2 separate regions of the Homo sapiens genome follow, and region 1 is linked to region 2. The links come from fine-mapping of genetic effects on gene expression. A gene starts in region 2. The other region holds a variant in brackets. All regions are shown on one strand. Distances are between the middles of the regions. Region 1 overlaps EXD3 (exonuclease 3'-5' domain containing 3). Region 2 holds the start of NRARP (NOTCH regulated ankyrin repeat protein).

Region 1 (5,368 bases), 98 kb after region 2:
AAAATCACAAGACCTAAAAAGAAACAAGGAAATATGACCCATAAACAAGTGGAAAAACACAAAAAACAGAGAACAGAAAGCAACTTCGAGGAAGGCCTCAAAGTTATTGGTGTTAGCAAAGACTTTAACACAACGATTTCAACTGCGTTCACAGAATGAACAGAAAACATGTTCAAACAGTTCAAGGAGGCCGAGTGCAGTGTGGGAGGCTGAGGCGGGAGGATCACTTGAGCCCAGGAGTTTGAGACCATCCTAGGCAACATGGTCAAACTGTACAAAAAAATTAAAAAGTAGCCGGGTGTGGTGGCTCACGCCTTTGGTTCCAGCTACTCAGCAAGCGGAGGCAGAAGAGTCGCTGGAAGCCCAGAGATCAAGGCTGCAGTGAGCCGAGATCGCACCACTGCCTTCCAACCTGCATGACAGAGCGAGACCCTGTCTCAAGAAAACCCCAAAAAACCATGAATAAAGTTAAAAAATATGGTTTTAATGAGTAAAAGGAGAGAAATGAAGATTATATGAAACTACATAAAAGAGCTAAATGGAAACTCGGCAATAAAAAGTGTCATCACTGAAATGTGTTTGACTCAGTGGCTGTGCTTCACAGCAGGTGGATGGCAGATGAGTCAGTGAATCTGAAAACAGATCAAAGAAGGACCAGATTGAAAGAACGAGGGGGAAAGACAGAAGGAACTGTGGCTCCACGGTCCACAGCCGGGCGCCCTCTGTTCCCCTGGTGAACGGCCCCGTCTGCAGCACTGCACGCCTGGCTCTGGGGTTCACACGCTTTGTGGAGACACCCATTCCCCAGCCTCTGCCTGCCTCCGTCTGGATGGCTGCACTGCAGCCCTGCTCACCCTGGACCCCCTTCCCTCTTGTCCCCTGTGCTCCCCGAAGTTCACCTCCTAGTTCTAAGGGAGCACCTTTTCCAGGAGCACCTCAGGCAGAACCGCAAGGGAGGAGCACTGAGTAGCCCTTTGCTTGTCTGAGAACGTCCCCATGACACATGTGCACCCATGTCCCCAAGACACACAGGCAACCGCGTCCCCAAGACACACAGGCAACCGCGTCCCCAAGACACACAGGCAACCGCGTCCCCAAGACACACTGGCACCCGCGTCCCCAAGACACACAGGCACCCGCGTCCCCAAGACACACAGGCGACCGCGTCCCCAAGACACACAGGCACCCACGTCCCCGTGACACACGTGCACCCGCATCCCCAAGACACACAGGCACCCGCGTCCCCGAGACACACAGGCACCCGCGTCCCCGTGACACACAGGCACCCGCGTCCCCGTGACACACAGGCACCCGCGTCCCCGTGACACACGTGCACCCGCATCCCCAAGACACACAGGCACCCGCGTCCCCGTGACACACATGCACCCGCGTCCCCAAGACACACAGGCAACCGCGTCTCCGTGACACATGTGCACCCGCGTCCCCAAGACACATCCCCAAGACACACAGGCAACCATGTCCCCGTGACACGCGTCCAACATCCTCGTAACACGTGCACACCGACATCCCCGTGACATACACAGACTGTCCCTGTGGCACAGGCGCATCCACGTCCCCATGACACACGCACACTGCACCTCCACTGGAAGCCTGGCTGTGCGTGGCTGTGGGGCAGGGGTCATTCTCCTGACGGTCATGGTAACGCCCCTCTACTGTCTTCTAGCCTCAGGGGTTGCTGAGAAATCTGATGCCCCCTGACTCGAGTGCCAGCATCTTCTGGGGAGACCCCGGGGCCGTGGCCGGATCCCAGCAGGACGGACATGGTGTGGTCCCCTGGGGGCTCCGTGGCCACCCTTCTGCATGTGGCTTCCCGATGGTGTCCTGCCCTCCACGCCCTCAGTTCTGTCCTCAGGAACTCCTGCTGTTTAGAACTTACACTTCCTGAGAATTACTTTGTCTTCTCATCTTTCCTTCTCTGCCTTTTTGGGAGATTTCCTGAACTTTATTTTGCAACCCTCTCACTGAAAGGTTCATTTCTGCTATCACAAATTTAATACTATCCACGAGTTCTGGTTTTCTGAAGCTTTTTACAAGGGTCTCCTCTCTTATTCCTGGCTTCTCTTCCTAACCCCCATATTAGTTCATTTTCACGCTGCTGATAAAGACATACCTGAAACTGGGAACAAAAAGAGGTTTAATTGGACTTATGGTTCCACATGGCTGGGGAGGCTTCAGAATCATGGTGGGAGGCGAAAGGCGCTTCTTACATGGTGGTGGCAAGAGAAAATGAGAGCCGGGTACAGTGGCTCACTCCTGTAATGCCAGCACTTTGGGAGGCTGAGGCGGGCAGTTCACCTGAGGTCAGGAGTTCATGACCAGCCTGCCAACATGGCGAAACCCTGTCTTTACTAAAAATACAAAAAGCAGCCAGGCGTGGTGGTGGTGCCTCCCAGGTACTCAGGAGGCGGAGAAAGGCGAATCACTTGAACCTGGGAACAGGGGTTGCAGTGAGCTGAGACTGCACCATTGCACTCCAGCCTGGGTGACAGAGCAGAACTCCATCTCAAAAAAAAAAAAAAAAAAAGAAAATGAGGAAGAAGCAAAAGAGGAAACCTCTGATAAACCCGTCAGATCTCATGAGACTTACTCACTATCAGAAGAATAGCATGGGAAAAACTGGCCCCCATGATGTAATTACTCCCCCTGGGTCCCTCCCATAACGTGGGAATTCTGGGAGATACAATTCGGGTTGAGATTTGGGTGGGGACACAGCCAAACCACATCATTCCGTCCCGGCCCCTCCAAATCTCACGTCCTCACATTTCAAAACCAATCATGCCTTCCCAACAGTCCCTCAAAGTCTCAACTGATTTCAGCATTAACCCAAAAGTCCACAGTCCAAAGTCTGATCTGAGACAAGGCAAGTCTCTTCCGCCTATGAGCCTGTAAAATCAAAAGCAAGTTAGTTACTTCCTAGATACAATGGGGGTACAGGTATTCAGTACATACAGCCATTCTGGGCCGGGCATGGTGGCTCATTC[T/C]TATAATCCCAGCACTTTGGGAGGCCGAGGAGGGTGGATCACCTGAGGTCGGGAGTTTGAGACCAGCCTGACCAACATGGAGAAACCCTGTCTCTACTACAAATACAAAATTAGCCGGGCGTGGTGGCACCCACCTATAGTCCCAGCTACTTGGGAGGCTGAGGCAGGAGAATCACTCGAACCTGGGAGGTGGAGGTTGCAATGAGCCGAGATCGCGCCATTGCACTCCAGCCTGGGCAACAGAGCGAGACTCCATCTCAAAAAAAAAAAAAAGTTCCAAATGGGAGAAATTGGACAAAACAAAGGGATTACAGGGCCCACGCAAGTCTGAAATCCAGAAGGGCAGTCAAATTTTAAAGCTCCAAAATGATCTCCTTTGACTCCAGGTCTCACATCCAGGTCATGCTGATGCAAGAGGTGGGTTCCCATGGTCTTGGGCAGCTCCACCCCTGTGACTCTGCATGGTACAGCCTCCCTCCCAGCTGCTTTCACAGGTGGTGTTGAGTGTCTGCTGCTTTTCCAGGCACATGGTGCAGGCTGTCGGTGGATCTACCATTCTGGCATCTGGATGACAGTGGCCTGCTTCTCACAGTCCCACTAGGCAGTGTCCCAGTAGGGACTCTGTGTGGGGGCTCCCACCCATTTCCTTTTTTTTTTTTTTTTTTTGAGATGGTGTCTCACTCTGTTGCCCAGGCTGGAGTGCAGTGGCGCGATCTCAGCTCACTGCAAGCTCCACCTCCCGGGTTCACACCATTCTCCTGCCTCAGCCTCCCAAGTAGCTGGGACAACAGATGCCCGCCACCACACCCGACTAAATATTTTTGTATTTTTAGTAGAGACGGGGTTTCACCGTGTTAGCCAGGATGGTCTTGATCTCCTGACCTTGTGATCTGCCTGCCTCGGCCTCCCAAAGTGCTGGGATTACAGGTGTGAGCCACCGTGCCCGGCCCCCACCCATTTCCCTTCTGCACTGCCCTAGCAGAGGTTCTCCATGAGGGCCCCGCCCCACAGCAAACTTTTGCCTGGACATTTAGGCATTTCCAAACATCTTCTGAAATGTAGGCAGAGGTTCCCAAACCTCATTTCCTGACTTCTGTGGACCCACAAGCTCAACACCACGTGGAAGCTGCCAAGGCTTGGGGCTTCCACCCTCTGAAGCCACAGCCCGAGCTCTATGTTGGCCTCTTTCAGCCACGGCTGGAGTGTCTGGGACATGGGGCACCAAGTCCCTAGACTGCACACAGCACAGGGACCCTGGGCCCAGCCCACAAAACCACTTTTTCCTCCCGGGCCTCCAGGCCTATGATGGGAGGGGCTGCCATGAAGGTCTCTGACATGACCTGGAGACATTTTCCCCATGGTCTTGGGGATGAACATTAGCCTCCTTGCTACTTATGTAAATTTCTGCAGCCGGCTTGAATTTCTCCTGAAAAAATTGGTTTTTCTTTTCTACTGCGTCAGGTTGCACATTTTCTGAATTTTTATGCTGTTTCCCTTTTTAAACATAATTCTTTTTTAGTTTTGTTTTTGAGATGGAGTCTTGCTCCGTCACCAGACTGGAGTGCAGTGGTGTGATCTCGGCTCACTGCAACCTCTGCCTTTCTGGTTCAAGTGATTCTCTTGCCTCAGCCTCCTGAGTAGCTGGGATTACAGGTGCGTGCCACCACGCCCGGCTAATTTTTGTATTTTTAGTAGAGATGTGGTTTCACCATATTGGTCAGGCCGGTCTTGAACTCCTGACCTCGTGATCCGCCCGTCTCAGCCTCCCAAAGTGTGGGGATTACAGGTGTGAGCCATTGTGCCTGGTCCCAGAATGCTTTTAACAGCATCCAAGTCAGCTTTTGAATGCTTTGCTGCTTAGAGATTTCTTCCACCAGATACCCTAAATCATCTCTCTCTCAAGGTCAAAGTTCCATAAATCTCTAGGACAGGCACAAAATGCTGCCAGTCTCTTTGCTAAAAGATAACAAGAGTCACCTTTGCTTCAGTTCTCAACAAGTTCCCCATCTCCATTTGAGACCATCTCAGCCTGGACATTATTGTTCATAACACTATCAGCATTTTTGTCAAAGCTATTCAACAAGTCTCTAGGAGGTTCCAAACCTTCCCACATCTTCTTGTCTTCTGAGCCCTCCAAACTGTTCCAACCTCTGCCTGTTACCCAGTTCCAAGTCGCTTCCACATTTTTGGGTATCTTTTCAGCAATACCCCACTCCACTGGTACCAATTTACTGCGTTAGCCCGTTTTCACGCTGCTGATAAACACATACCTGAGACTCAGAACAAAAACAAGTTTAATTGGACTCACATTTCCACATGGCTGGGGAGGCCTCAGAATCACGGTGGAAGGCGAAAGGCACTTCTTA
Region 2 (5,368 bases):
ACTTTCTGTGCAGCAGGCAGCCTCCAGCATGACCCCCTAGCGGGTCAGAGTGGGCAGGGCTTCAGGCCGAACTCTCCTCTCCAGCGGAGGTCTCAGCTGCTTTGCTGGGGAACAGAGCAGAGGCTGTGACACCAGCTCTGGGCACGCTGGAGGTGCTGGGTCCTCGTGAGTCCTGTGTGCAGCCGGGTTGGGCTTGGCCGTTGCGTGGGGCTGGGAGCGAGTTTACCAGGCTCTGTCTTCAGACAAATACAAGCCAAGCATTGTGCACCCAGCACCCACAAACCGTGTCACAGCCTGACCCTCGTCCCCAGAGAGGGTGTTCTGCAACTTGTGCCAAAGCCAAGAAGGACCAAGAAACTTTTTTTTAATATAAAAAGATCAATGAAAAATTTATTTATAAATTTTTCACGCTGGGCTACAGGTCAATATCGTACACTCAGGAATGTGCTGCACAAACTTTATCCAGTTAGCAGTGATCACCCCGTGACCCACACACAGCTTCGATATAAGCCTAGAAAGTCTTAACATTAATTAACATAATTAAAAAGGTATTTGCATCTAGAAAAAATATACAGAAGAACTCCTTGTGGAGTAATCTGTGCCTCCATTTCAATGTCTGCTTGTTTCACTGACATTATCAATATATTCTTCTCACACAAAGTTTTATAAAAAGCGACGGAGGGCTGCCCGAATACGACCAGCCACGCACAAAGGGCCTCCACCCACCTGTGTCCTCAAGTGCTCCCCATTTCTGCACGAAGGGTCAGCAGCACTTCCATGAAGGGGAAACCTCATTTAAATTTGAATAATTCAGCCTCCCTTTTATTTCTCAGGATCAAAACAACAAGGGGTGTGGGGCTGCATAGAAAATTGGAGCCACAGAAACCAGGAAGGGCGCCTTTCAGGACAGAAAGTGACGCAGGAGAACCTCCCCGGGCCCAGGTCTCGACGCAACCCCTCCCCCACGGCAGGATTTCGGGTTCGAATTGAGTCCTCGAAGCTCTGGGAGGCTAAAAAGGGGCAAAACGATCCTTCAATTAACTCAGCCATTAGCACAAGAGATTCACAGTCTTATAGGTATTTTATAAAAATATAAATATGGGTACACTCTGTTGCCTTCACAACGCTGGATACATCGCCCTTTAAAATTGGGTTTATAACCAAGATTCAAAAAATACACCTAAAACTTGGCTTAAAATATGTTAATATTTTATATTCTGTCATAAATGTTATGACATTTAATTGTGGCAAATCCATTTACTTTTTTTAAAAAAGTGTGCAACCGTTAACTATGATAGAACGCACTAGAAAAGGTAACGAACCTTCACCCACCCCCCCGTGTCCCCGCCACCCTCGAGCGCCAGCGAGCTTCCAGGATCCTGGGGAAACTGCAAAACAAGCCGGTTTGGGGGATGGTGGCCTCATCCAGGAGGGGCGGGGGAGAGAGGCCCTGGGGCTTCCAAAACTCACGGATTTGAGGGAGAGGGAGAAGGAGGGAGGGGGAACAGAACGGGGTGGGGAGGTAGACGCGGGGAGAAGGGAAGGGGGAGGGACAGCACGGGAACACCATCAGGCTGGGCGGTATTTTCAGTGCAACCAAGAAATGGTAGACTCAAGTTTTTAGTTTTAAGACTAGAAAAAAATGCATCACTCCCCCCCATAACCACATTGACCACGCAGTGTTTTCCAAACAAAAAAACCAGGCGCACAAACTCCACCCACAAATGTACACACACAAGATAAATAGTTTAGAACACCAGCAACAGCGAACAGCCGAGCGTCTCCTCGGCCGCGCGCCAGCGGCGCGGACCTCGGACCTCGGGGCTGCTCCTCGGCTGCAGCCGGCATCGGCGCGTCCCGGGCCTGCGGGCGGGTCCTGAAGGCGGCGGCGGAGCGCTCCGAGTCCGCCTTCGGCTCCCGCCGCCCGCCTTTCACCTTCGGGAGAAAACATTTTGCGCAGAGGATCCGGTATCTCGGGATTCCGAACTTGCTGGTTGCGAGACTCAAATTTCAAAAGGGGCTGGAGCCCGCGCCCCGCCCCCACCCGCGAGGCGGCGGGCAGGCGAGCGGGTGGGGGCCGTGGGAAGCTGCTCCGGCCCGGCCGGGCCCGGCTAGGCCGCAGGGAGGCGCTCGGCCGGCGGGGCTGCCGGACCCTGGGGCCGGGACGCACGCGCCGTATTCGCCGTGGCCACGGGCCTTCTGGCGGGGCCTGCGAGCCGGGCGCGCACCGAGGTAGTTGGCGGGAAGGTACAGCAGAGACGACGCGGGCGCAGGGCCGGGGTCCGGGGTCCCGGCGGGCATCACCGGCCGCTGGCCGCGTACTTCGCCTTGGTGATGAGATAGAGCACGATGTCCTGGTGGCCACCGAACGCGGCGATGTGCAGCGCGCTCCAGCCGTCGCGGTTGGCCAGGCGGATGTCGGCGCCGAACTTGACCAGCAGCTTCACGAGCTCCAGGTTGCCGTCGATGACCGACTGGTGCAGCGCCGTCTGGCCCTCGGGCCCGAACGAGTTCACGTTGAACTCGCAGTTGGTCATGTTCTGCAGCAGCGACTGCAGCTCCTGCGTGTTGCCCTTGCGCACAGCCTCCTGGAAGATGCGCTGCGTCTGCGGCGCGGAGCAGGTGGACAGCTCGGCCTGGCTCATGCTGCCGCCGGGCGCGGGCCGCGGGCCGGGCCGGGGCTCAGCGCGGGCGGCGGCTGCGGCGCGGGCCCCCGGCTGTCTCGGGGCGCGCCTCGGCGCATGGAGGGCGCGGCGTCCCCGGGCCCCGCACGCCGCCTCTGGGCGCTCCGGGCGCTCGGGGCCGGGGGTCGCCGCCGCGGGGACCCCGCCGCATCCAGCCGCGCCCGGGTGGGCGACGGGGGCGCGCGCTCGGCTCGCGGGGGCCGGGCCCGGCCGGGGACGGCGGCGCCGCGCGGTCCCGGTCCCTACTCGGTTCGGCTGCGGCTCCCACGCGGTCCCAAGGCGCCTCCCCACGCGCCGCAGCACTAGCTCGCCCGCCGCGCCGGGGCGCCTTTTACCTTCTTTATATTTGCATAACAATGGCAGCCCGTGACGCGCGCGCCGGCGGCCCCGGGATTGGGCCGCGCCCACATGGGGGCGGGGCGTGGGCGGTGCCGTGCGCAGGGGTCCGGGGGCGGGTCCCGGCGGCGGCGCGCTTCGCGGCAGGGGGCGCTGGTCGCCGGCAGCGCCTGGGCGGGGGAGGCCAGGTGGCCGCCGGGGGGGTCCAGCTCCGTCGCCGCCGCCGTCCGCGCGCCCCCCGGGCGCTCCGCGTCTCTTTGCGGTCGTCCCGCCCCTTCTCCCTCCGGCCACCCGGGGAATTCCAAGCTCCCTCAGCAGCCAGACCCAGGCCTTGCCCGGTACCCGAGCGCGACCGCCAGGTGGCCCCGAGGGCGGCCTCTCCCGGGCAGGGGGTTCGCGGGCATCTCAGGCCCGTGGCGAAGGAGAGACCCCTCTGAGCGGAGAGGCGCGCGGCGACCCCGGCCAGCCCGCGCCTCCGGGCTCACCGTCCACGCGGGTGGCAACTCCAGGCCCTGACGTGGGGCCTTCAGCCACGCGGGTCCTTCCCGCGCGCGGGCAGCCTCATGGCCGCCGGCTCAGCCTATGTGTGCCCCAACCGTACTGATGCGAGGGGCCTCCGGCCGGCCACCGCGGCTTCTATCGCCTGGCGGTGAAGGGGGTTCCGCTGTCCTCTCGGGAGGAAGCCCCGGGCCGGGGCGCAGCGGGAGGGTCGGGACCGCGGCCTGCCTCCCTCTGCTGCCCACGCACCAGCATGCGGGACACATAGGTCCTGCCCAGGTGAGCAGGGCTAGGTGTGGCGCCAGGGCCAGAAGGGAATTCTGAAACGCCTGGCTTCCAAACTGTAAAACCCATTTTTATTGACCACTCTAACAATTGACCGGGAGGCACTAGCAGGGGAAGCACAGCGCATTTCCTCATTAGAGTTTTACAGTTTACAACTCGCTGTGGTCGTTGGAAATTAAGGAGGAGTGATTCTCAGGCGCGGAGCAGGAGGCCAGGCAGGCTGGGGCTTGAATTCCTTCTGAAGCCAAGCCGGGAATTCCGCGCAGGCAGCTCTGAGCTCGGGCTGGGGAGACCCCCATGCCAGGCCTTGTCTGAGGAGGCTTCCGCCCACCAGCTCCATGTCCCCACATCCGGCTCCCCACAGGGGTGTGTCCCCACCCCATGCTGTGCCCATACTGGCAGGAAAAACTGGGCAGGCTCCCTTCGGGACAGACCCTGGCTGACCGGAGCAGGGTCCTGAGGCCCTGGGGTCCTCCTGGTGGGCTGGGAACCTCTGTCCCTCAAAGGCACAGCTCAGAGCTCGCTCTGGTCTTCCTGGGGCCGTGATCCCGCTGGTTCTGTTCAGCTCTCTCCTTTGGGCCTCACTGCTTCTCCCAGGAGCTCTCAAGGGGGCCACGGAGGGTGGAGGGGTGCTCCCCAATATGCAGGTGAGGACACAGTGGAGTCCCGGAGTAGGCCCCCAGCAGAACAGAGATGGGCGCTGTGGAGCCCAGGCCCGGGGCAGGGATGGCATGGCCTGGCCTGCCGTGCTCTGCTGGGCACCTTTGGCCTCTTAAGGAGGGGGAGCCGCTGGGCTGCCTGCTGGTCCCTGGTGCTGGCTGTGTCTCTGGACCTCAGACCAGGGCTGGGTGTGCAGGGTGCTCTGAGCTCACTGTCAGGAGGGCAGGAGCTCTGTCCTGGGCATTGATGGATTTTGTGCATATGCCCAGGGCCCAGCCAGGCTAGACTGGCAAGAGGCAGAGGGCATGACTGGGGGGTGGGCAGAGCCCTTGGTGCTCAACAGGCACAGGGCCTCCCCTGGAGGGTGGGTGGTTTGCAAACAGGCCGAAGCCCAGGTGGGCTCAAGCCGGGCCTGGAGAAGGCATTTGGCTATGCTGTGGGCCAGGAGCAGGGCCTGGGAGAAAGTGCCGTCGGCATCCGTGGCGGCGGCAAACAAAGGGGCCCTGTGTGAGCTCGGTGTGGGAACGCGGGGCCCCGCCACGGGCGTGAAATCGGCAGCGGCCCCTGGCGAGGGCCAGGCGGTGCGGGCGCCCCGGCAGGCACAGTGAGGCTGGTGTGGCGGCCCTGCAGGGCGGGAACCTACCCCCTGCCCGGGGTCCAGAGCGGGGTCAGGCAGAGGTGGTGGGGCCTGCCACGGCAGTGTGGCTGTGGCCCAAGGCAGGTACCCAGGCTCATCTGTGGGACTCAGAGGCTGGCCACACCACACTGCCCACAGGGAGTTCGCTGAGTGGCCCTGGCTCCTGCTCCTCCACCGTGGCTCCCAGCTCCCCTGGGCACACCCACGGCCCTGAAGCTGCTCCATTTGAGGATGGGAAGGGGGGAGGGGCCGGGGGGGCAACAGCTCT

What was found. PIP is the estimated chance that this variant, and not a neighbour inherited with it, causes the effect.
Region 1: its variant is the best candidate, but not a certain one, in a credible set for the expression of NRARP in lymphoblastoid cells (GTEx, PIP 0.69).

What each region holds. Positions count from the first base shown.
Region 1 is chr9:137,397,504-137,402,871 of GRCh38, forward strand. All of the region lies in intron 1 of EXD3 (exonuclease 3'-5' domain containing 3), which reads right to left. Among named protein-coding and RNA genes, the nearest start is that of EXD3, 23 kb to the right of the region's middle. The variant T/C (reference allele first, on the strand shown) is at 3,003.
Region 2 is chr9:137,299,284-137,304,651 of GRCh38, forward strand. NRARP (NOTCH regulated ankyrin repeat protein) reads right to left here and starts at 2,988. Exons shown (of 1, transcript NM_001004354.3): 1 at 348-2,988. The coding sequence starts at 2,645. The coding sequence ends at 2,301. RefSeq lists enhancers at 1-487, 2,287-3,205 and silencers at 1,846-1,895, 2,016-2,075, 2,146-2,225, 2,908-3,547.